Linked DNA regions of Homo sapiens: regions 1 and 3 are each linked to region 2. The links come from fine-mapping of genetic effects on gene expression. A gene starts in region 2. Each other region holds a variant in brackets. All regions are shown on one strand. Distances are between the middles of the regions. Region 1 has its middle 10 kb from the start of ERCC6L. Region 2 holds the start of PIN4 (peptidylprolyl cis/trans isomerase, NIMA-interacting 4). Region 3 overlaps HDAC8 (histone deacetylase 8).

Region 1 (8,182 bases), 68 kb after region 2:
AAAAAAGGAGCCGAGAGTGGGTTTGGGGCAGGAAAAAAGATGAAATTGATTAGAAACAGTAATAATGTATTTATGAGACAGGGTCTCACTCTGTTGCCCAGGCTGGAGTGCAGTGGTGTGATCTCGGCTCACTGTAACCTCAGACTCCTGAGCTCAAGTGATCCTCCAGGCTCCAGCGATTCTCCAACCTCAGCCTCTTTAGCAGCTAGGACTACAGACATGTGCCACCACATCCACCTAATTTTTTTAATACTTTGTAGAGACAGAGTCTTGCTATGTTGCCCAGGCTGTTCTCCAGCTCCTGGGCTCAAGCGATCCTCCCGCCTCAGCCTCTCAAAGTGCTAGGATTACAGGTGTGAGCCACCAAGCTCTGCCAACAGTAAGAATTTGTGTTTCCCAGATACCTAATTAGGCTTCTCCCACCCCATTTCTAGCTAGGGTTCTTATAAAGTAGGTGGGATTTGGGGGTAGGGGATAGAAGATTGAGACTGAGGGTTTAATCTCCCAGGGGAAGCAGGAAGGAGGAGGAAAGCCATGGGATGGAGGCTGCCCCAGCCAACAGTCATCTCCAGCTCTGCCAGCAGAGGGAGCCAGAAACTGAATTTCCTAAGAATGGCAGCTGGCCTGGCCCCTGGGATGGATAAACCCTTCTTGGAAACTAATCAAGTCAGCCCAGGATGCTGTGGAAATGACAGGGACTGGGAGGAAGGGAGGGAGCCAAGAGTTAGGATTACCTGCAGGGTCTTTGCCCTAAGTTTCACAGTCTTTGATGAAAGCCTTCTAAACCTGCCTTTCGGGGTTTGGGTGAAGTGGGCACCAAAGGATAGAGAAACCTTTGACAAGGCAGTCCCACTGCACAAAACATGGCATCCTCCACTCCCTTTGGGTTACCTCAGTGGCTCTCAAGGCCTCACAATTCTGTCTCTAGCCTCATCGTCTCTCCTGAGATTTGGACCTAGATGGCAAAATGGCTATAGGACATGTCACCCCGGAAGCTCAAACTCAACATGGCACCGAACTCACCCTCTCTCCCCTAGACCTGCTCTCTCAATATTTCCCATCTCCATGAATGGCACTACCAACCCCCAAAGTGGTCCAAGTCAGAAACCGGGAAGTGTCTTTGAGGCCTGCCTCATATTTGCCCCTCAAGTTCAATTCATCAGTGAGTCGTGTTGGCTCTACCTCTAAAATACATCCCAAATCCAATCACTTCTCTCCATCTCCACTGCCACCACGGTAGTCTATGCCACCATTCTGTCTCACTTGGACGACTGCACTAGCCTCCTGGCTTGTCTTCCTGCTTCTATTTGTGCCTTTCCCCCACTATCTGATCTCTACCCAAAAACCAGAATCATCTTTCAAAAATACCAAACTGATCATGCCATGGCCCTGTCTAAATCCTTCAAAGCCCCCTCGTTTCCCTCAAGATCAAGTCCTGCCTCCTTACCATGGCTTACAAGGCCTTCCTGATCTGGCCTCTGACTACCTCTCTGGCCACGTCTTACTTCTTCACAACCCCTACACATACATGCACACGATCTCTTCTCAAACTGAACAACTTCCAGCTATTCAGATCTTGCCTCCAGGCCTCCCCACATGCAGTTTCCTCTGCCTGGACTCACCCTTTTCACCTCACTATTGTCTATTCACTCCTCTTGTCTCAGTGCAGGTCTCCCTGCTTCCAGGAACCTTCCCTGATCCTTCTCAACAAGTCATCCTCTGTGATCCCACATCCTGCCTTTATCATTGGGTTTATTCCATGGAATGTAGCTGCCTGGTTACCTGTCTGGCTCCCCCGTGATCATGTGAGCTCTGTGAAGAACATTTCTGTCTTTTTCACAGTTATACCCTCGCAGAGCTCAGAATGGTCCCTACACATAATGGCTGACCAGTAAATAGTTGTTGGATGGATGGATGGATGGATGGATGATCTGTCAATTAGTAATCCTAAAGGAGAGCACTGTGTGCTCTGTTAGAGAACTAGAATGAGGCCTTGGGTGGGAATGATATATCCAAAGACATAATGAGGACCAGAAATCAGGGAAGTGGGGAGGGCCAAGCATACCCATCCCAGCCACTTCTCTTGCCAATACTACCCCTGTCTCCCTTTTATACCTGCCTCCAGATGGACCTGGAAGTAACACAGAGGATTCTGAGTTACACCCAGGAACTAGACAGCCCTCTTCTAGTCCCTTCCCAGATCTTGTGCTAGGACAAAGCCACCCATGCTTGGCTGTGAGATGAACAGGCTCCAGCCAGAGCCCAGTGTCGCTGGACTCTCCAGATGCCCTGTACCCACTTGTTCCCCAAGTCAAGGACATTTCTGGGAGCTCCCCATGAGCTCTCCTGTAGCTTCCTTATCCTCCTTCTGCAGCAGCAGAGAAACCCTCCCTACATAGCATGGGTGCCTCTCACAAAACCTGGGGTCAAGGCTTCTCCCTGGTGCCAGCCCAAGAAGGGACTCCAAGTGGGCATCTAATCCAAATAGGCGTGGCCTTTTTCCCTTCCTCTTTGGCACTAAAAGAGACAGGTAGTAAAAACTACAAGCTCTTGAGGGCAACAGGAGGGAAGTGGGGGCAAAGGTGAAGTTTTTCTACAGCCCTTCAAAGGTCTTGGCCCCTTGCCCAGATCCAAGTCAAGAACTGTTTGTTTCAGAGAACTGGCTTCCCAGCCATCTGCTCAGAGCTTAAAGAGCCTAGGGGCCCTCATGGGATGTTCTGTTCAAATTAGCCAAAAAAGGCAGGGTGAAGACAACACAGCAGGAGGGGCCTTGACCAGTCTGGGCCTCTGAAGGTGTGGAAGGAAGGGGCAGGTATATGGCACTAGGGCACATTGAGGGTATGGCAAGTCCCAGAACAGAGAGCTCTTCTCACAGCCCAGTTCCACTGATCTTAGAACCATGTCTTCCATCCTTTGTGAGCAGCTAATTTATGCCAGGAACTTTCCCCACAACAAACAAGATGTTCTCTTGTACCAGTTGAAGGAACCAAGGATTAGAGAGGTTAATTGCCTTGCACGAGGTCATGCAGCAAGTACACAGCAGGTTCAATGAGTGTCCTCTGGTGATTGGTTGCCAAGGCTGCTAGAAAATGATTCTTCCCTTCAGTGAGCAGATAGGCAGCCTGAGGATAATAGCCAGGAGGGGATACAGAAAGTCACACTCCTTTTGCGCCTAGGACATAGCTTGCTCCATCCAGAAAAAAAAAAAAAAAAAAAAAAAAAAAAAAAAAAAAAAAAAAAAATGTCCTTATTCCTTTGACACACACTGTCTCTGGGTTGTAGAAATGGGTCAGGCACTAAGGTCAGGTTTTACATGTGGAAAATCTTAGGGTGAAGACAGGAAAAGACTTTCTCACAGTCAGAGTGTAAGAGAACAGTTCAGATGAATGGAGCTGTCCAAGAAGCCAGGCAGATATGCAGGAGAAAGACTGACAAGGAAACCCTCTCTCCTAAAATCCCCCACAGCCATGAACATTCACATGAATTGAAAAACCAATCCTCAGCCAGGTGCAGTGGCTCATGCCTGTAATCCCATCACTTTGGGAGGCCAAGGCGGTGGATCACCTGAGGTCAGGAGTTCAAGACCAGCCAGGCCAACATAGTGAAACCCTGTCTCTACTAAAAATACAAAAATTAGCCAGGCGTGGTGGTGCACACCTGTGATTCCAGCTACTCCAGAGGCTGAGTCAGGA[G/A]AATCTCTTGAACCCAGGAGGCAGAGGTTGCAGTGAACTGAGATTGCGCCACTGCACTCCAGCCTGGGTGACAGAGCAAGACTCCATCTCAAAAAAAGAAAAGAAAAAGAAAAAAAAAAACCAATCCTCAGGCAAAATTGCTAGGGGGTAAGTTTGAGGACTTGCAAAAGTAGGGGGCCTTTGGGGCCAATCTTTAGTTCACCAGGGGTTCTCAAGTCTGCATTCATGTGAGACTCACTGGGGATATCTTAAATAATAATTATGTTTGCGATATATTTATCTGACAAAAGACTGATACCCAGAATATATAAAGAGCTCCTACAAATCAATAATAAAATGACCACCCAAAAATATGAGCAAAAGAGTGGAACAGACACCTCATGAGACAGGATATATGAATGGTCAGTAAGCACATGAAAAGATGATCAACATAATTTTCCATTAGGGAAATGCAATTTAAAACTAAAAGGACATGCCTCTACATACCCATGAGAATGGCTATAATTTAAAAGACAGACAATACCAAGTGTTAGCAAAGATATGGAACAACTGTAAGTCTCATCTTTTGCTGGTGGGGGTGTAAATTGGTACAACCACTTTGGAAACCAGCAGTTTCAAATAAAGTTAAACCCAGGAATTCCACTCCAAGAGAAATGAGTATATGTGCTCACAGAGAGACTTGTACAAGAATGTTGATAGCAGCTTTGTTTCTAATAGCCAAAAACTGGGACCAATGCAAATGTCCCTGGATGCCTGAATGGATAAACTTTGGTGTATCCATACAAGGGAATACCACTCAGCCACAAAAAGAAATGAACTACTGATCCTCAGGGCAGTAGGATGAACCTCAAGGGCATTATACTAAGAGAAATAAGGCAATCTCAGAATGTTACATACTGCTTGATTCCATTTCTATGAAGTTCAAGAACAATCAAAATGAATCTATGATAGAAATCAGAACAGTGTCTGCCTCTGGCAGGGGTGAAGGGCAGTGACTGGAGAAATGGAAATGTTCTATGTTTTAATGGGGCAGTGGTTACACAAGCACCCACAATATCACAATTCACTGAACTATACATTTAAGGCCTATGCATTTTACTGTGGGTAAATTATGCCTAAATTTTAAGACTCATGCCCAGGCCTCACCCCTAATTAAATCAAAGTATCTAAAGGTGGGGCCTGGGCAAGGGCATTTTCAAAATCTCCTCAGGTGATGCTAATGTGCAGCCGGGGGTGAGAACCGCTGATAACATTACCACCACCTTTCCCTGGCAACAGTCCCTCTCAGCCTCCTGTGTTCTGGAGACTTTTCAGAGATGCCCATCAGAAAAAGTCTCTCCCACTATCACAAGCAGAGGTAGGCAAGTGGGGATAGAAGGCGAGTGAGGGTAAGTGCATACCAATATATCTCAAAGGTTGTTTCATATCAAAACATAAAGGCACTGAATTTTACACTTTAAAATAGTTAAAATGGTCAATTTTATGTTATGTAAATTTCATCTCAATTTTTCAAGTTAAAAAAAAAATCAGCCGGGCATGGTGGTACGTGCCTATAGTCCCAGCTACTCAGGTGGCTAAGGTGAGAGAATCACTTGATCCCAGGAGTTCAAGACCAGCCTGGGCAACACAGTGAGACCCTATCTCAAAAAACAAAAAAATGACCAAGAACTTCCTTAGATTTGATGGCTGCACATATTCCATTGTAAAGGTGTACTTTATTTAATCAGTCCTCTATTGAAGGATATTTTTCCCAATCTTTTGCTGTTAAAAACATAGTGAGAGCTAGGCATGGTAGCTCACACCTGTAATCCTAGCACTTTGGGAGGCAGAGGTGGGAGGATTGCTTGAGCTCTAGAGTTTGAGACCACACTGGGCAACATAATGAGACCCGTCTCTACGAAAAATAAAAATAAATAAAAACATAGTGACAATAAATATTCTGGTATATGGTTTTTTTTTTTTTTTTTTTTTGAGAGGGAGTCTCACTCTGTCACCCAGGCTGGAGTGCAGTGCCGCAATCTCGGCTCACTGCAACCTCCACCTCCAGGGTTCAAGCAATTCTCCTGCCTCAGCCTCCCAAGTAGCTGGAATTACAGGTGCCCACCACCACGCCTGGCTAATTTTTGTATTTTTAGTAGATATGGGGGTTTTGTCATGTTGCCAGGCTGGTCTTGAACTCCTGACCACAGGTGATCCTCCCACCTCCATCTCCCAAAGTGCTGGGATTACAGGCATGAGCCACCACGCCCGGCCTGGTACATGCATTTTTTTAAAAAATATGTGTGAGTGGGCCGGGTGCGGTGGCTCACGCCTGTAATCCCAGCACTTTGGGAGGCAGAGGCGGGCGGATCACAAGGTCAGGAGATCGAGACCATCCTGGCTAACACAGTGAAACCCCGTCTCTACTAAAAATACAAAAAAAAAAAATTACCCGGGCGTGGTGGCGGGCGCCTGTAGTCCCAGCTACTCGGGAGGCTGAGGCAGGAGAATGGCCTGAACTCGGGAGGTGGAGCTTGCAGTGAGCCAAGATTGTGCCACTGCACTCCAGCCTGGGCGACACAGCGAGACTCTGTCTCAAAAAAAAAAAAATATGTGTGAGTGTATCTGTAGAATAATTTCCTAAAATTGGAATTGTTGGGTCAAAGTGTATATGTCTTTCTTATTTTGCTAGAAACTGCCAAATTGCCCTACATAAGGGATAAATGAATTTACATTCCCATAAACAATATATGAAAGTGTGTGTTTTCCCCACCTTTGCTAACAGTGTTTTCCAACCTTTTGATCTTCACCCCTCTGATTATTAAAAAGTGGTACCTTGTAGTTTTATTTTGCATTTTCCCTGAGAGTAAGTCTTAACTGACTCAGATAAAGACGTTCAAGTGGAGGAGAGGGGTGTTTTTTTCGAGGTAGGGAAGAAGGCAGCTGTTTTAGTTCTGGCTGCTATAACAGAATACCATAGACTGAGTGGTTTAAACAACAAACATGGCTGGGTGCAGGAAGCTCATGCCTGTAATCTCAGCACTTTGGGAGGCTGAAGTGGGAGGCTGAAGTGGACTCACTTGAGTCCGGGAGTTCGGGGCTGCAATGAGCTATGATTGCACCAATGTACTCCAGCCTGGGTGACAGTGTGAGACCCTGTCTCTAAAAAAAACCAAAAAATTAAAAATAAAATAAAAAAAACAAACGAACATTTATTTCTCAGTTCTGGAGGCTGGGAAATCCAGGATCAAGGTGCAGGCAAATTCAGTGTCTGGTGAGGCCCTCTTCCTGGTTTGCAGACATTCACCTTCTTGTTGTACTCTCACTTGAGGGAGAACAGAGAGAAAAAGGAAACAAGCTCTTGGAGTCTTTTCTTTTTAATAAAAAAAATTTTTTTTTGAGAGACAGGGTCTTGCTCTGTCACCCAGGCTGGAATACAGTGGCACAATCACGGTTCACTGTAGCCTCAACCTCCTGGTCTCCAAGCCTAGCTATTTTTATTTTTTATTTTTTCGTAGAGGTGGGTTCTTGCCATCTTGCTCAGGCTGGTCTTGAACTCCTGGCCTCAAATGATCCTCTCATAGGCATGAGCCACTTAGTGCCTGGCCTCCAGGTCTTTTCTTTTCTTTTTTTTTTGAGACAGAGTCTCGCTCTGTCACCCAGGCTGAAGTGCAGTTGTGCAATCTCAGCTCACTGCAACCCCTGCCTCCTGGGTTGAAGCAATTCTCCTGCCTCAGCCTCAGCCTCCCAAGTAACTGGGATTACAGGCACGCGCCACCACACTCAGTTAATTTTTGTATTTTTAGTAGAGACAGGGTTTCACCATGTTGGCCAGGCTGGTCTCGAACTCCTGGCCTCAAGTGATCTGCCCGCCTTGGCCTCCCAAAGTGCTGGGATTACAGGCGTGAGCCACCGCGCCCGGTCCCTCCAGGTCTTTTCTTATAAGACATTAATCCTATTCATGAGGGCTTCACCTTCATGACCTAATCACCTATCAAAGGCCCCACCTCCTAATACCATCCCGTTTTGGGTTAGAATTTCAACATACGCCTTTAGCAGGGACACAACGCATGGTTCATAACAGCAGGTATCTTACCATGTTTCTGTTATAGTTGTGTTAGCTTTGAGCAAGTCACCAAGAATCCAAGGGCTCTTAACTGAATATTAAGGACACCCAAATGTCTTTCTTAGGTCCAAACCTCTCACTGGAGTCCCAGACTCCTATATCAAGTCCCCCTCGACATCTGACATTTCACTCTGAAAACGTCCAAAAGAGAATTATTGGTTCCCAACCCACCCTCAAACTTGACCTGCCCTGGTTTTCCCCAGCTCTACAAACGGCACCACTCAGTTGCTCAAACCAAAAACCTTGAAATTAGAAACATCATCTCTTTCCCTCATCCAGTTCATCACCAAGCCCTGTTGGCTGTCTCCAAAATACATCCTGAATCTCTCCACCTATCCCCACTCCACTGCAACTACCCAAGCCTAAGCCACCTGGAATTTACCAA
Region 2 (8,182 bases):
ATATTTAATATTAATACCTATGTCCATTTGCCACGAAGAGTAGTTATTTTTATAGGTGGCTGATTTCATCCACTATGTACTGATTTTTTTCCTGTCTTCATTTTCCAAACATGACCTTTTCCTGTCCTTGTTCCCAGAGTCTGGGGCCTAGAGCTGCCTATGCAATGACCATCTATGAATGGGATCAACTAGATCTCTGTGTTTTGTTGCTTCAAGCTTTCCCCTGCAGAATAAGCTCTGCTGGGATCCCAAATAGGAAAGAAACTGTGGTTCTTTGGCTGTGGAGCAGGTCAGGTGGGGCAGTGTGTGAGTCTGGGCCAAGGTCTGTGAACCTCTGTCCTGGGAAGAGGGCTGCCAGCTTCTCTTCCTGATTTTCCTCAAGTAACGCATAAAAGAATGAACCTGATGAGGTAATTAGTAGAAAATACAACTGGCAGCCATTGCTGGCTGAGTCGCAGTGCACACTCCAGCAGATGTTACCATAGTTTCAAGGCTGAATTTTTCTCCTCTTTTCTCCCCCTGACCTCTCTCTTCAGTTAATTTGTCACTCTGCTCCACAGACCCCTCCACAGTCTGCCTCCATAGACTGGTGCAGACTTAACCCTGAATAGAAGCTGGCTTTTCTATGATTTGCTTTTCAAATTACGTTTATTGTCTTTTTCTCTTGAATAAAAAATAAGTGTCAAGTGATAGAATATAATATAAACTGAAGAAAATGAAAGTTAAACTCACATTTCAGAATACTTAAAATTGTATCCTAATACCTGCCCCATCTTTTTGTAATCATACTGCATAGTTGAGATCTGTCTTAAAGTGCTCCTGACCTTGAAACCTCCAGCAGGCCTATGCCCATTCTTTTCCCCTTGGAGCTGTTGGCCTTCAGTCTTGCTTGAAAAATGCAGCCATGGACACAGGCTTATTATCATTGTTGCTGTTATTATCTGCTGGAATGCACAGAGCTCTCACAGTGTTCCAGGCACTAAGCATTTGCTAGGCACATCAGCCATTGACAGACATTGGCTGTTCATTGGGATCGGAACTCTAGTTTGCTTCATTCCTACTTCACAACTGCCATAGCCAGTGGTCACAGGAAAGGCTCTTCCCAACGAAAAATCAAAAGTAGGGTCTCCCTCTGATGCCGAGCCAAGGCTGGACGGTGCTGCTGCCATCTCGGCTCACTGCAGCCTCCCTGCCTGATTCTCCTGCCTCAGCCTGCTGAGTGCCTGCGATTGCAGGCGCACGCCGCCACGCCTGACTGGTTTTCGTTTTTTTTTTGGTGGAGACGGGGTTTTGCTGTGTTGGCCGGGCTGGTCTCCAGCTCCTAGCCGCGAGTGATCCGCCAGCCTCGGCCTCCCGGGGTGCCGGGATTGCGGACGGAGTCTCGTTCACTCAGTGCTCAGTGGTGCCCAGGCTGGAGTGCAGTGGCGTGATCTCGGCTCGCTACAGCCTCCACCTCCCAGCCGCCTGCCTTGGCCCCCCAAAGTGCCGAGATTGCAGCCTCTGCCCAGCCGCCACCCCGTCTGGGAAGTGAGGAGCGTCTCTGCTTGGCCACCCATCGTCTGGGATATGAGGAGCCTCTCTGCCTGGCTGCCCAGTCTGGAAAGTGAGGAGCGTCTCTGCCCGGCCGCCATCCCATCTAGGAAGCGAGGAGCGCCTCTTCCCCGCCGCCATCCCATCTAGGAAGTGAGGAGCGTCTCTGCCCGGCCGCCCATCGTCTGAGATGTGGGGAGCACCTCTGCCCCGCCGCCCTGTCTGGGATGTGAGGAGCGCCTCTGCTGGCCGCAACCCTGTCTGGGAGGTGAAGAGCGTCTCTGCCCGGCCGCCCCGTCTGAGAAGTGAGGAAACCCTCTGCCTGGCAACCGCCCCGTCTGAGAAGTGAGGAGCCCCTCCGTCTGGCAGCCACCCCGTCTGGGAAGTGAGGAGCGTCTCCGCCCGGCAGCCACCCCGTCCGGGAGGGAGGTGGGGGGGGTCAGCCCCCCGCCCGGCCAGCCGCCCAGTCCGGGAGGGAGGTGGGGGGATCAGCCCCCCGCCCGGCCAGCCGCCCCGTCCGGGAGGGAGGTGGGGGGGTCAGCCCCCCGCCTGGCCAGCCGCCCCATCCGGGAGGGAGGTGGGGGGTCAGCCCCCCACCTGGCCAGCCGCCCCGTCCGGGAGGGAGGTGGGGGGGGTCAGCCCCCCGCCCGGCCAGCCGCCCCGTCCGGGAGGGAGGTGGGGGGATCAGCCCCCCGCCTGGCCAGCCGCCCCGTCCGGGAGGTGAGGGGCGCCTCTGCCCAGCCGCCCCTACTGGGAAGTGAGGAGCCCCTCTGCCCGGCCAGCCGCCCCGTCCGGGAGGGAGGCGGGGGGGGGGTCGGCCAGCCGCCCTGTCCGGGAGGGAGGTGGGGGGGTCAGCCCCCCGCCCGGCCGGCCGCCCCGTCCGGGAGGTGAGGGGCGCCTCTGCCCGGCCGCCCCTACTGGGAAGTGAGGAGCCCCTCTGCCTGGCCAGCCGCCCCGTCCGGGAGGATGGTGGGGGGGTCAGCCCCCCGCCCGGCCAGCCGCCCCATCCGGGAGGTGAGGGGCGCTTCTGCCCGGCCGCCCCTACTGGGAAGTGAGGAGCCCCTCTGCCCGGCCACGACCCCGTATGGGAGATGTGCCCAGCGGCTCATTGGGGATGGGCCATGATGACAATGGCGGTTTTGTGGAATAGAAAGGCGGGAAGGGTGGGGAAAAAATTGAGAAATCAGATGGTTGCCGGGTCTGTGTGGATAGAAGTAGACATGGGAGACTTTTCATTTTGTTCTGTACTAAGAAAAATTCTTCTGCCTTGGGATCCTGTTGATCTGTGACCTTATCCCCAACCCTGTGCTCTCTGAAACATGTGCTGTGTCCACTCAGGGTTAAATGGATTAAGGGCGGTGCAAGATGTGCTTTGTTAAACAGATGCTTGAAGGCAGCATGCTCGTTAAGAGTCATCACCACTCCCTAATCTTAAGTACCCAGGGACACAAACACTGCGGAAGGCCGCAGGGTCCTCTGCCTAGGAAAACCAGAGACCTTTGTTCACTTGTTTATCTGCTGACCTTCCCTCCACTATTGTCCTATGACCCTGCCAAATCCCCCTCTGCGAGAAACACCCAAGAATGATCAATAAAAAAAAAAAATAAAAAATAAAAAATAAAAAAAAAAAAAAAAGAAAGAAAAATCAAAAGTAAATGTTCCTCTTGGGCCTCTTGGCCATAGATAACCTGATGAACACAAGGCTACGCTGTCATCGTCAACACCCAATCCCAACTCCCCCGCCCCTCCATCTCGCAGCCGAACTTGGAGAATTAGTACAGGTGCGGGATCCACTTCAGAAGTGGCAGAGCAATGATCCCCTCACCACTAGATGTGTCCTCCGCAGTTGATCACTCCCAATCCGAAAACAAGGAGTGCCCAAAATGTGTCCAGAATTTAAAGCAGCCAAACATAAGAGGGCTCCATGTTATGTCTTGAGTAGGGAATGAGCACAGTCTCAGAAACACCTGATTCCCTGGTATGAGCATGAAGCATCTCCAGGTCCAGCAAGGCTGCATCCAAAAACTAAACTCTGAGCTGGAAGACCTCTATATTCTGGCTGGTAGTGGCAAGCTAGGACAGCTCTCTCATGGACTGGAGGAAACGCCCTGACATATCATATACAAATTATTGATGGTGGGAGGGATTGTAAGGGGAGAAAAAGTGTGTGGGCACAAATTCAAAAATCATTTATCTTAGGCAAACATTATTAATATGAGCAAGCCATCATTTTATGTGCTTTACAGATATGAACTTGTTTAATTCTCTTAACACCTGATAGGATAATAGTAGGTACTATTATCATCAACTCCATTTCACAGATGATGAAACTGAGCCAAAGAGAGGTGAAGTAACTTCCTCAAGGTCATGGAGCTAGTAGACAGATGTGGAGCAGGGATTTGAAACTGGGCAATCTGGCTCCAGAATCCATGCTTTTACTACACTATGCTGCACCATTATGGAAATTTTGGAAAATACACAGAAACAAACACGATGACCTGTATGCACTAGCACCACTGGCCACATCTTGCTCTATAGCTTTCCTCTCCTTTATATTCATATAACATACAATACATTACATATACTTCTTTTACAAGGAATCATATTCTTTATCTTGGTCTTAAAAACATTTCCCCTATCTGTACACACAGCCTTACAATCGTTATTTTGAATGTTGTATAATATCTTCTTGTGTGGCTAAAACATTATTTAAGCAGTACCCGACTGAGGAGCACTCAGACTGCTTCCAATGTTTCTCCATGACTGAGCTCTGCAAGACGCAAAAAGGTGACAGGCTTTTTTAAAAACTACCTTTTGAACCTAATTAGCTACAACTGCAGAATAAAATTAACAAACGAAAAACTGCCAGGGAGGGCAGCCCTGTGTGTAGGAGGAGACAGCGGAAGTTGGCCGCCACCACAGTACTCCTGCTTCCCTTTGTCTGGCGGCCCCGCGGGATTGGCCAGAGCTGGCGCCGAGGGACTGCAGAGCCACCCACCCCCGTGGCTCCTACTGCGCACGCGTGAAAAAAGCCAGGTTGAGGGGAACGGGGGAGCTTCGGGCGTAGAGTGTGGGGAGTGGGGGATCTGGTGCAAATTAGGGTGCGTGAAAGAAGTCACAAAAAGCGCAGAGGCCAGGCTTCCCGCCCTAATCCGGCCTTTGTCTCCGCCCCTCTGCCTTTGTTTCGGCCCAAGCGTCTTATTGGTCAGACATCTTCAGCCCCATTGGTCCAAGAGCCAAAGGACGGGGTCTGCCCCAAGCTGTGCCTGCTTCCGGAGCCGCAATAAGAACGGTCAATTGAGATGCGGCTTTCAGGCATTTGTTTAGGACATGCCCATGGCGGGGCTTCTAAAGGGGCTTGTACGGCAACTGGAGCGGTTCAGCGTTCAACAACAAGCTTCCAAGATGCCGCCCAAAGGAAAAAGTGGTTCTGGAAAAGCGGGGAAAGGTAGAGCGGCCAGAGCGATCAAGGAGAATGGGGGCGGGTGAGGAGCGAAGGGAGGGAACAGACAGTCCATCTCCGGAGTCCGGGACGGACGCAGCAGGTAGCCAGTGGCCCCACAGTGCTGCCATCGATTACATCTGTAGGAATACATTGGGCTACGGTTCAGGGACCGTCCTAGTGGGTAATGGAATCTGATGGGGATAGTTCCTCGGAGGCGATGACTTAGGGCTGCTATTTCAAGGGGTTATTAGAGCTCTAAAATTGGGTCTTATCAAAAGCCAGCAATAGGAAGTACACATTGGTTATGGTCCTTAAAGTTCACTTTAATGCTTACAGAATGACATGCCCACCATCGGGGAAGGAATCATTCATCCATTGAACAGAAATGTGTCAGGCAGAGTGCTAAGCGCTGAGGATACACAAATAAGACAGAAGGCTGGGCGCGGTGGCTCACGCCTATAATCCCAGCACTTTGGGAGGCCGAGGGAGGATGGATCACGAGGTCAGGAGTTCGAGACCAGCTTGGCCAACATGGCGAAACCCCGTCTCTACTAAAAATACAAAAATTCGCCAGGCGTGGTGGTGGTGCGCGCCCGTAATCCCAGCTACTCGGGAGGCTGAGGCAGGAGAATCGCTTGAACTCGGGAGGCAGAGGTTGCAATGAACCGAGATCGCGCCACTGCACTCCAGCCTGGGCGACAGAGCGAGCCTCTGTCTCAAAAAAAAAAAAGAGATTTTGGCCTTAAGGAGCTCCCGAAGTAGTGAGGAAGATAAAGGCTTAGTGATCATAAAGCACTGTACTAAATGTAGTGTTGAGGGATGTGTATGGGATATAATAGAAATTGAGGGAAGTCCTTCATTTAGCTGGGGAACAGGGAACGGAAGACTTCCTGGAGATGAATTAGGCAGGTCAAGATGTGCATTGAGGGTAGGTTAAAGCATTCCTTACTTGGGGTCCAGCAGCAAAAGCACTGAGGTGAGAAACAGCATGATGTGTGCAGCGTAGTGTTGCTGGAGCAAAAACTCAAGGCAGAATGGCAAGTGGTGAGAATGAAAACAGAAACAAAGACGAGATCATGGAGAGTGCTATATATTCTGCTAAGAAGGACAGTTAAGGATCAGAAAGACCTGTAAGGAGATTGTTGTGGTAGTCTTGGTGAGAGATGATGGTGGACTGACCTAAGGGAGTGGCTGTGGGAACTGAGAAAAGAGAAAAGATTCTGTAAATATTAGGATGTGAAATAGTCAAGACTTGGTGATTTATTGGGTTGGGGAGGGGTGGTGAGGGAGGATCAACGATCATTCTGTTTTCTGGATTGGATTTCTAACCTGTTGCTGGTCCTGCAGGGTAACATCAAGGATACATGAGGAGCGGGGATGAGATTGATGAATTCACTTTCAGATAGATTGGCTTTGAGGTGTCTGTGGGACATCTCAGTGGAGATGTAGTCAGGAAGTGGTTGGATATTTGAGTCTAAAGTTTGAGGGAGAGGTCTAGACTGTACATGTAAGTTTTAGGAGTCGCTAACTTATAGATGGTAGTTGAGCCCATTAGAGTGTATGCAATTATCCATGGAGAGTTTATAGAATGAAAAGAGCAGAGAGCAGAGGATGTGATCCTAGGACAGGCAGAGAAAGAGGCAGACAGATAGAGGGAGTGCAGAATGGTGGCCAGAGGCTGGAGAGACCAGAATGTTTTAAAGAGAGAGGGTATAGTCTATCAAGAACAGCAGATTTGGAAATTAGAGGTGGCCTTGGGTAAAAGTGGTTTCAGTGAAACAGAAGCCAGATTACCGTGACTAGAGAACTGACTGGGAAGTGGTAATTTGGACTTCTTGGAAAGTTTTAATTGAAAAGCATGGAAATGGGATGGTAGATAGAGAAGGACAGAGGATTAAGAGAAAGTTTTATTTTCTTTGCTTCTTTGGAATGGGGAAAACTTGGGAGTGAAGCTGAAGGATCCAGTAAAGTAAAAGAGGTAAAGGTACAGAAGAGTGAGATTTAGGAGAAAATGGAATCCAGGACCTAGGGGGAGCAGGGACACCTTATGCTTGAGGTCATAGGAAAGGAGATGGAGGGGCAGGGACTCAGTAGGCATCTTGAGGAGAGTGGTAAAGGTCTGGAATATCGTAATGGAAGAGGGAATGAAACACAAAAGAAGTGCCTTCAGGGCTAGGAGCCTGACTAAGATCAAAGGCCATGAATTTGTAGACTACATAATCTTCACAGTCTGATTTACCTAGTACTATGCAATTGGCACAATATAGGATTGAAAAGAGCTAGGTGCAGCCTTAAGCCATGGTTGAGGTTTTGTTAGGCAGTTATGATAGGAGGATAGCAACACCAGGGAATTACAAGGGCCAGTGGGAATGCAGTTCAGATGAAGGAACATGGGGTCCAGAGTGGGAAGGGAAAAAGAAGTCTGGTGGCCTAGGTGAATGTAGCAGGACGAAGGGACTGGGGTCAAGGGAGAGGTTCTGTGAAGTTAAAGAGCAAGTATTGTGGGAATGAGACATGAGGAAGCTGGAAGAACAGGAGGTTATAGCCAGAGACTGAACTAGTTCTGAGTGGCACAGTTCCATCGTGTGCCCCCGGGGCAGGTAGCTTGGAGTAGAGAGCATGACATTCGGGAAAGAGACCTAGAACTGAGATTCCCCAAGATAGATGGTGAGGTCACTCAAGGTAATGGCAGGAGTGAGGGTGGAGAGGAAGCCCAAAGCTGATGCCAGAGTCGTCAGGAAATCAAAGGCAGTGAGGTGGCAGTCAGAAGATGACAGCATCCAGCAGGGAAGAGGATGGGATAACTGGAAGGCATCATCATTCAAGAATGGATCTATAGCAAACCCAGTTAGGAGTTTGATTTAATAACACTCCTTTGGCAGTAACATTTTTTTAGGGTTTTGGTAGTCAGTATTTGGGGTTTTCAGTTTAATCAAACATTTATTAAAACACCTTTTGTGTGCCAGGCATTGTGCTAGGCTTGGAGATACTAAGACAAGCAAGATGGAGACTCTTGCTTAAAACTTTTCAATGGCGGCCAGGCGCGGTGGCTCACGCCTGTAATCCCAGCACTTTGGGAGGCCGAGGCTCGCAGATCACGAGGTCAGGAGATCGAGACCATCCTGGCTAACAGGGTGAAACCCTGTCTCTACTAAAAATACAAAAAAAATTAGCGGGGCGTGGTGGCAGGCGCCTGTAGTCCCAGCT
Region 3 (8,182 bases), 150 kb after region 2:
AGCATGCGCCACCAAGTCTGGCTAATTTTTTTGTATTTTTAGTAAAGACGGGGTTTTGCCATGTTGGCCAGGTTGGTCTCGAAGTCCTGACCTCAGGTGAATGGCCAACCTCTGCCTCCCAAAGTGTTGGGATTACAGGCATGAGCCGCCACACCCAGCCATATTATTATTATTATTTGAGACAGGGTCTTGCTCTGTTGCCCAGGCTGGAGTGCAGTGGTGCAATCATGGCTCACTGCTGCCTCGACCTCCAGGGCTCAAGGCATCCTCCTGCCTCAGCCTCCTGAGTAGTTGGTACTACAGGCATGTGCCACCACGCCTAGCTCATTTTTGTATTTTTAGTAGAGATGGGGTTTTGCCATGTTGGCCAGGCTGGTATGGAACTCCTGGGCTCAAGCAATCCTCCCACCTCGGCTTCTCAAAGTGTTGGGATTACTGATGTGAGCCTCCGGGCCCGGCCCTAGGGTATTTAATTGAGTCAGACAACTGAATGAGGAGAAGGAGCCAGTCTAGGGAAGATTGGGGCATTCCAAGCAGGACTAGCGTGTGCATAGATCATGAGGTGAGGGGCCCCTGTCTTAGACAGCTCTATTTATGTCTGTCTTTACCTCTACGTCTGTAGATCTCATCCTTTTTGTAATCACAAAACTCCTTTGAGTGTTGAGACTCTGATAATAGCTATGGCTCTGTGCCCCAGAAAAATGTACATATGTACAGTCACACAAATTTGCATACTATTTCCCTAATTCCTGAAGCCAGGGAACCCCAGGAAGTTTCCTTACCCACAGCGTGTTCACATTTAGGGCAAGAACAGTGTCTACTACTAATATATAACATGCGCTCTACTACATGCTTTTCTGCATTATCTCTTTGGTCCCTCGCAACCACCCCCATGAGGTAGGTACAGGTAAGTGTCGCCATTTGATAGACAATAAGACTAAGGCTCAGAGAGAGGGAGTTACTTGGCCAAGGTCACACAGCTAGTAAGTGAAGGGAGAGGCTTAAACTCAGGCAGTCTGAGGCTGAAGTGTGTTATGTTGCATGCCAAGGCACTACCGGTCAGCTTTGGGCCCAGCACTGAGCAGGAGGTTTGGGGATCTGCCCCTGGCAAATGCAGAGAAGGAGGAGCTGCAGGAGCTTTCTGTATAGGGGCTTAGAGATGTCAAAACACACTTGTTTACGTGGTTGTTTTCTTTCATTCTTCTGCTTTTCTCTTCCTCCTTCTTTTCCTTCTCCTCTTCCTCTTTTTCCTTTTTTTTTTGTTGAATGACAATATTTGATTTTCTTATAAAGAAGTCTTTCTGCCTTAGAGTCTTTTAAATATATAATTGGAAATATACTACTGCTGTCTCTGTGACAGCTAACATTGAATGCAGCAGAGGCAGATCCACCCTCCCCAAAGGAAAACTGGTGGGAATTTTCCATTGACTTAAAAACAAATGTTATGTATTAACTTTTTTGGGACCAGGTAATACATTCACATGGTTCAAAAATCAAAAGGTACAAAAAGGAACTGAGTGCAGGTCGCCCTCACTCTGCCACTTGCCATCTGGTTCCCTTGCCCAGAGGCAACTGAGGTGTCCCAGTTCCTTGTGTATTTTCCCAAAGGTGTTTTATGCACATATATGCATATCCAATATCGATATTCCTTTTTAAGTGGTTATTTTCTTACCCCTTGAGTTGGAGACATAGTCTACACTTCTTTCTTGGTCTCTTTGGCCCTTGTGAGTGCCCTGGAGACAGAGGGGGCTGGTGGGTTTCCTATAAGCACTGGGTTTTCCTCAGAGGTGAGCCTTCCCTGGACCATTTCCAAGGCAGGCCCTCCTGTCCAGAATACACGCTTTTCAAAGTGCTTCCATCTTTGGTAATTCATCAACCACTCACAATAGCCCATGAGGTGCAAGAATTATTCACCCCATTTTATGGGTATGGAAACAGACCCAGAAAGGTCAAGCAACTTGCTGAAAAGCACACAAACGAATGAATGCTACTGTGTGGTGAGGGCCCAGAAGCAGCATGTGGCTTGGTCCAGCTTGGGCTTTGGAAGCAGTAAGAAAGTTGTTTACTTCAAAGTCACAGTTTAAAAATATTCTAGTGGCACTAGTGTGGGACAGTGGAAAAAGTAAGGGAATTTGCAGTTCCAGCCGGGTTTTTCTTCCTGGCTCTGCCACTTAAAAAGGGGCATGTTACTTCATCATTCTTAGCCTCAATTTTCTAATCTATAGAGTGGGGATGATAATACCCACTAGCAGGGTGGATAGTGACGTACAAGTGAAAATGATCTGTAAAATGGGGCATATGCCAATGCTTGCTTTACCATTGTTGTTATAGTTATTGTGGCTGGTCCCTTGCAGACACAAGGGGTGGGTGGTGGCGGGGTCGGCAGCAATTTCCTAAAGGTAAGACAGGCAGGCTTATGGTGGGGACAAATTTGCCCCACCCTCAAGCCAACTGATCTAAAAAGCATCCCCCTCCCCCGCATCCCCCTCCCCGCCATCGCCCCCACTGATCGGTCTTCCAGGCAATTAGAACAGCCCCAGGGCCTGAGCACAAAGTCTTCCTCAGTGGGTGTCTTGAACTGACTTTGATCTGTAACTACCCCCTAACTCCCCGCGGATCAATTGTTTCTTTTTTTTTTTTGGGGTTTATGTATTTATTTTTTTCTATTATTAAAGTAAAATGTGCCCACTACAGAAAATTTGGAAAATACTGAAAAGTAGAAATGTGCTCCCACAGCTCTGAGCTCATGTTGATAACAGAGCTGGAAACATGTTGGGATCTGCTTCTTTTTCTCCTCCCTTGCCTTGTCTGGGAATTCCTAGACAGCCAGGATGGATGGGGCTGTGTGCTTGTCTGCCGTCCCGGTCCCAGTAGTTAGTTGAAGGAGCTTTGTAAATATTTGGTAAATAAAATTACAATATCATGACATTTAGTTGTCTCTTCCTCATCTCTCCCATTATCTCCCATCCCCATTTTTCCATGTTGCCAACTCCCCAGAGGTTGCAGTAACACCACACATTACAACTTCCTCCCCTTTTCATTATGTGCCAATTGTCTACTGGGAAGCATCCTTTCTATCCATGGAAGTGCTCCTCTTGGATCTGACATGCCAACACACCTTTTCCATCCCTAAATCACTCCCTGGACAGGGACAGCTCCTCCCCAGGGTGCCAATAAGCCCCTCTCCATGACTGCAGTGCCAGTATTCCTACCCCACCATGGACAGCCCCAGTGCAACACAGAGCTTGGCCTTCTGTCCCAAGAACTTGGGCTAGGGACACACTAGTTCCCCAGTGAGGTCAGACTCTCAAGCCGGGCCAGAGTAGAGATTGGAAGGAACAGGGTTATTCTTGACACTTCAGCGAGAAGAAAAGTTCAGAACTGTGTGTGCTGTCAGTGGCGCTTTACAATGAAGACAACGGGACAAAGAGGTAGGTTTTCAAAGATTTTATTAAAAAAACCAAAGATATATAACACTAAAACAACACCAGCGGACTTCTCCCCACCTCCCAGTCTGCTGATCAGTACCCTCTCTCCCAGGGCTCCACCTGGATGGTCCTGAGGCCCAAACCCTGCCTGTCAGCTGCCTCCTGCCCTACAAACTGGTGACTGCTCTCATCCAGCTTCTGATCTGTTTCATTTAAGATGATTAAAATACTCCCCTCCCCAATTCGCTTAAAAATAATTTTCAAAGATTAAAAATTTCATTTGTGTGTGTGTGTTTTTTTAAATAAGAACTTTAAATGTGGGATATCTCCTTCTTCCCCTAGGTCCAGTTGAGGACTCTGGGGTGCCTGCCTCTTCACCCCAGGAAGCCAGCTGCCACTTGATGCCCCTTGGAAATTTTCAGGAAGTAATTTCTTTCAAATTTTCCCTGCAGTCACAAATTCCACAAACTGCTTGCATAAACACGCTGTCTTCATTATAGGCACCACTCCTCAGCTCTGGAAACCTGATCTCTTTCTGTCAACTAGACCACATGCTTCAGATTCCCTGCAAACAGGGGAGAAAACAAAATTCAAAGTCAGGTAATG[T/C]ATGTGAATTATACCCCAATAGAGCTATTTTTTAAAAAGCACTTATATTTTGGGGCTTATTCTCTGCTGCTCTTGGGAACTCTGTGACCTCGCCATAAGGAACAAGACCAGAATAGCTTGCTGGATGATGAGAAACAAATGGCCCAGAGATCCCTGTCACCCAGGCAACCACCAGCCAATTACTGGACATGTGATCGAGGCCTTTGACAGCCAGCTGACTGCAGATGCTGGGTGTATCCAGCCAGAACCAGAAGAGCCACCCAGCTGAACTCAGCTCAATTGCCAATCTATAGAGTCATGAGCTAAACAAATGGTTGTTTTAAGTCTCTCTCTCTCTCTCGTAACACTTTTCAGAGTTCATTCTTTACTAACTGCATCAAATCTCATGCTCCCCACCCCCAACTTTTCTTCCTTCCCTTAGCAAGGCACAACCCTCCTAGCATTTTCTCTTGTGAGTACCTGTGAAACACGGATTGGGGGCTTTCCTCTGATCTCAGGCCTAAGAGTCTTTGAGGGAAAAGTGATCATTTGAAATCCTACCGGACTGGGCTCTAGGAATGAAAAGTTGCTCACTTTGTCCCTCCGTAGTCTTTGCCTTGCCACACTTCCCCAAGTAGAAACACTGGGCTCCAAACCCTACTGGCCACTTCTCTGAAACAGAAACAATGCTCCCTGAGGGCAGGGCCTGGCTGTCTTACTTTTGGTTGATTTCCAAAGTCTTGCACAGTGCCTCACTCATAGTAGGTGCTCAGTAAATGGCTGAATGAATGGACGAATGAAAGGAAGGAAGGAAAGAAGAAACAAGTCAGAAACAAACTACTTGCCTATCTTTTTTTTTTTTTTTTTTTTTTTGAGATGGAGTTTTGCTCTTGTTGCCCAGGCTGTCGTACAATGGCGCGGTCTCGGCTCACTGCAATCTCCCGGGTTCAAGCAATTCTCCTGCCTCAGCCTCCCGAGTAACTATGACTACAGGTGTGTGCCACCATGCCCAGCTAATTTTTGTATTTTTAGTAGAGATGGGGTTTCACCATGCTGGCCAGGATGGTCTCGATCTCTTGATCTCGTGATCCACCCGACTCGGCCTCCCAAAGTGCTGGGATTACAGGTATGCCCGGCCTTGCCTATCTACTTTTATTTTAAATTTTATTCTGCAGTAAAATTGACATTTGTGCATGTGCAGATCTGATTTTAAACATATGTATAGATTCATGACAGAGAGGAGTTCCATAACCCCTCAAATCTCCTTGTGCTATCCTTTTGCAATCACATCTTCCTTTCTCCCCCACACCTAGCAAGCACTGATCTGTTCTCCATCACTGTAGTGTTGTCTTTTTGAGAATGCCATATAAATGCAATCAAACAGTCTGTAACCTTTTAAGATAGGCTATTTTATTTTTTTACTCAGCATAATGCCTTTGAGGTTCATGCAGATTTGTGCATGTATCAATAGAAGTTCATTCCTTTTTTGTACTGAGCTCTTACTTTTAAAATAATTATAGAATAACAGGAAGCTGCAAAAAAAAAATAGTGCAGAGAGGTTCTACACACCCTTCCCCAGGTTTCCCCACATGTTAACATCTTACATAATTACTGTTCAATATCCAAGTCAGGAAATTGACATTGGTACAATTCACAGATCTTATTAATATGTCACTAGTTTTACAAGCACTCATTTGTGTGTGTATAAGTGTATAATTCTAGGCCATTTAATCGCAAGTGTAGATTCATGTAACCTCAACCACAATCAAGATGCGAAACTATTTTATCACCACAAAGATTTCCCTCCTCTACCTCCTTTACAGTCATTCCCATCCCTCCTCCTTCACCATCCCTAAGTCCCAACAACCATTCATCTGTTATCCTTCTCTAAAATTTGGTCATTTTGAGAATGTTATAGAAATGGAACCATACAGTATATAAACTTTTGAGATAGATAGGCTTTTTTCACTCAGCATACTGCTCTTAAGATCCATCCAAGTTGTGGTGTGTATCAAGTTTGTTGCTTCTTTTTGCTGAGTAGTACTCCACAGTATGGATGTAGCACAATCTGTTTAACTACTTATCTGCTGAAGGACACCTGAGTCATTTCCAGTTTTTGGCTATAGAATCAAGCCACTATGAACATTCACATACAGGTTTTTGTGTGAACATAGTTTTCATTTTTCTGGGACAAATGCTCAACAGAATAATTGCTGGGAGGTATGGTAGTAGCATGTTTAGCTTTATAAGAAATTGCCAAACTGTTTTCCAGACTGGTGGTACCATTTTACTTTCCCTCCAGCAATGTTTGAGTCATCTGGTTTCTCAGCATTCTTGCTGGCATCTGGTGTTGGTTTTTATTTTGGCCATTCTGATAGATGTATAGTGATATCACATTGTGATCTCAATTTGCATTTTCCCAATGGCTAATGATGTTGAACATCTTTTCATGTGCTCATTTGCTGACTGTATATCCTTTTCATGTCTTGTCTTTTGCCTACTTCCTAATTGTTTTTTTTTTTTTCTGTTGAGTTTGGAAAGTTCTTTATATATATTTTTTATTTTTATTTTTTGAGACACAGTCTCACTCTGTCACCCAGGCTGGAGTGCAGTGGTGCGATCTCGGCTCACTGCAAACTCCGCCTCCTGGGTTCAAGCGATTCTCCTACCTCAGCCTCCCTAGTAGCTGGGATTACAGGCATGTGCCACCATGCTCGACTAATTTTTGTATTTTTAGTAGAGAGGGGATCTCACCATGTTGGCCAAGCTGGTCTCAAACTCCTGACCTCAAATAATCCACCCGCCTCAGCCTCCCAAAGTGCTGGGATTACAGGTGTGAGCCACTGCACCCAGCCCTTTATATATTTTAGATACAAATCTGTTGTGGGATATATGATTTGCAAATATCTTATCTCAGTATGTAACTTATCTTTTCATTCCCTTAACAGGGTCTTTTGTAAAGCAAAAGTTGATTTTGATGAGCTCCAATTCCTTATCAATTTTTTTTCTTTTTTTGGATCATGCTTTTGGTATTTCAACCCCCTAACCTCAAAAAAATCTCTGGATAATCTTTGATCCTTAATTTCTTAGTTCACGCCTTCTCCACATCTTATGAGTTGTGAAGCCTAACCTCAAGATGTCTCTCCAATCTATCCCCTTCTTTCTGTTCCACTGTCTCTGCTTTAGTCACATCTCTTGTTACTCAGGTCACTGCGACAACCTCTTATCTGGTCCTCCTGCTTCTAGAGCTATTCCCTGCACAATTGCTAGCTGTGATCACATTCCTTCTCTGCTCAAAAAGACTTCAGCAGGCTGGGCGTGGTGGCTCATGCCTGTAATCCCAGCGCTCTGGGAGGCTGAGGTGGATGCATCACCTGAGGTCAGGAGTTTGAGACCAGCCTGACCAACATGGTGAAACCTCGTCTCTACTAAAAATACAAAAAAATTAGCCAGGTGTGGTGGTGGGCGCCTGTAACCCCAGCTACTGGGGAGGCTGAGGCAGGAGAATCGCTTGAACCTGGGAGGTGGAGGTTGTAGTGAGCCGAGATGGTGCCATTGCACTCCAGCCTGGGTGACAGAGCGAGACACCATTTCAAAAAAAAAAAAAAAAAAAAGACTTTAGCAGTTCCCGACCTACCACCTATGAATGAAGTCCAACTCCTTAGCGTAAATGGGCCCCATCCATGCTTTCCTGTTTCCACACCTTCGCTTGTGTTGTTGCCTCAGCTGAGGACAACCTACAGGGGACACTGGTGTGAAGTGAGAGTCCTTCCATCTGTAAGTATAGCCAGAGCTAGGGGAATGACTGAATGCAAGGATGAACAAAATTCCATGTCAAAGCATTCCAACAAGACATGTTCGCAGGGAGGAAAGGTGGGTGCTGTACTCCTCTGCTGCTCTGCCTCACTCTCCAGTTAAATTTGGAGGCAATTAAGAAAAACAACAGAAATAATTTTCACCAAGAAGTTGATGATGAGCAATGTTGAATTGGGGTAACAATAAAAATGCAAGCTTAAATAATGCCCATTGTTTTCCCCTCACATCTAGCTTTTCCAGCAGTGGGTGGCAGCCTGAGAAAATTCTAAAGGCTAGCACAGGCTGGGGCCTAGGGAGACAAGAAGTTCAGACCACAGCGGGCAGACTCAACTGCCTAGAGAGGCCAAGAATAT

What was found.
Region 1: its variant is fine-mapped to the expression of PIN4 in lung (TOPMed, PIP 0.97).
Region 3: its variant is fine-mapped to the expression of PIN4 in whole blood (TOPMed, PIP above 0.99).

Annotation. Positions count from the first base shown.
Region 1 is chrX:72,245,095-72,253,276 of GRCh38, forward strand. It overlaps a transcript of PIN4 not described here. Among named protein-coding and RNA genes, the nearest start is that of ERCC6L, 10 kb to the left of the region's middle. The variant G/A (reference allele first, on the strand shown) is at 3,693.
Region 2 is chrX:72,176,851-72,185,032 of GRCh38, forward strand. PIN4 (peptidylprolyl cis/trans isomerase, NIMA-interacting 4) reads left to right here and starts at 4,907. Exons shown (of 4, transcript NM_006223.4): 1 at 4,907-4,978. The coding sequence starts at 4,936. RefSeq lists an enhancer at 4,947-5,166.
Region 3 is chrX:72,326,084-72,334,265 of GRCh38, forward strand. It overlaps HDAC8 (histone deacetylase 8), which reads right to left. Exons shown (of 11, transcript NM_018486.3): 11 at 3,433-3,993. The coding sequence ends at 3,971. Among named protein-coding and RNA genes, the nearest start is that of CITED1, 24 kb to the left of the region's middle. The variant T/C (reference allele first, on the strand shown) is at 4,035.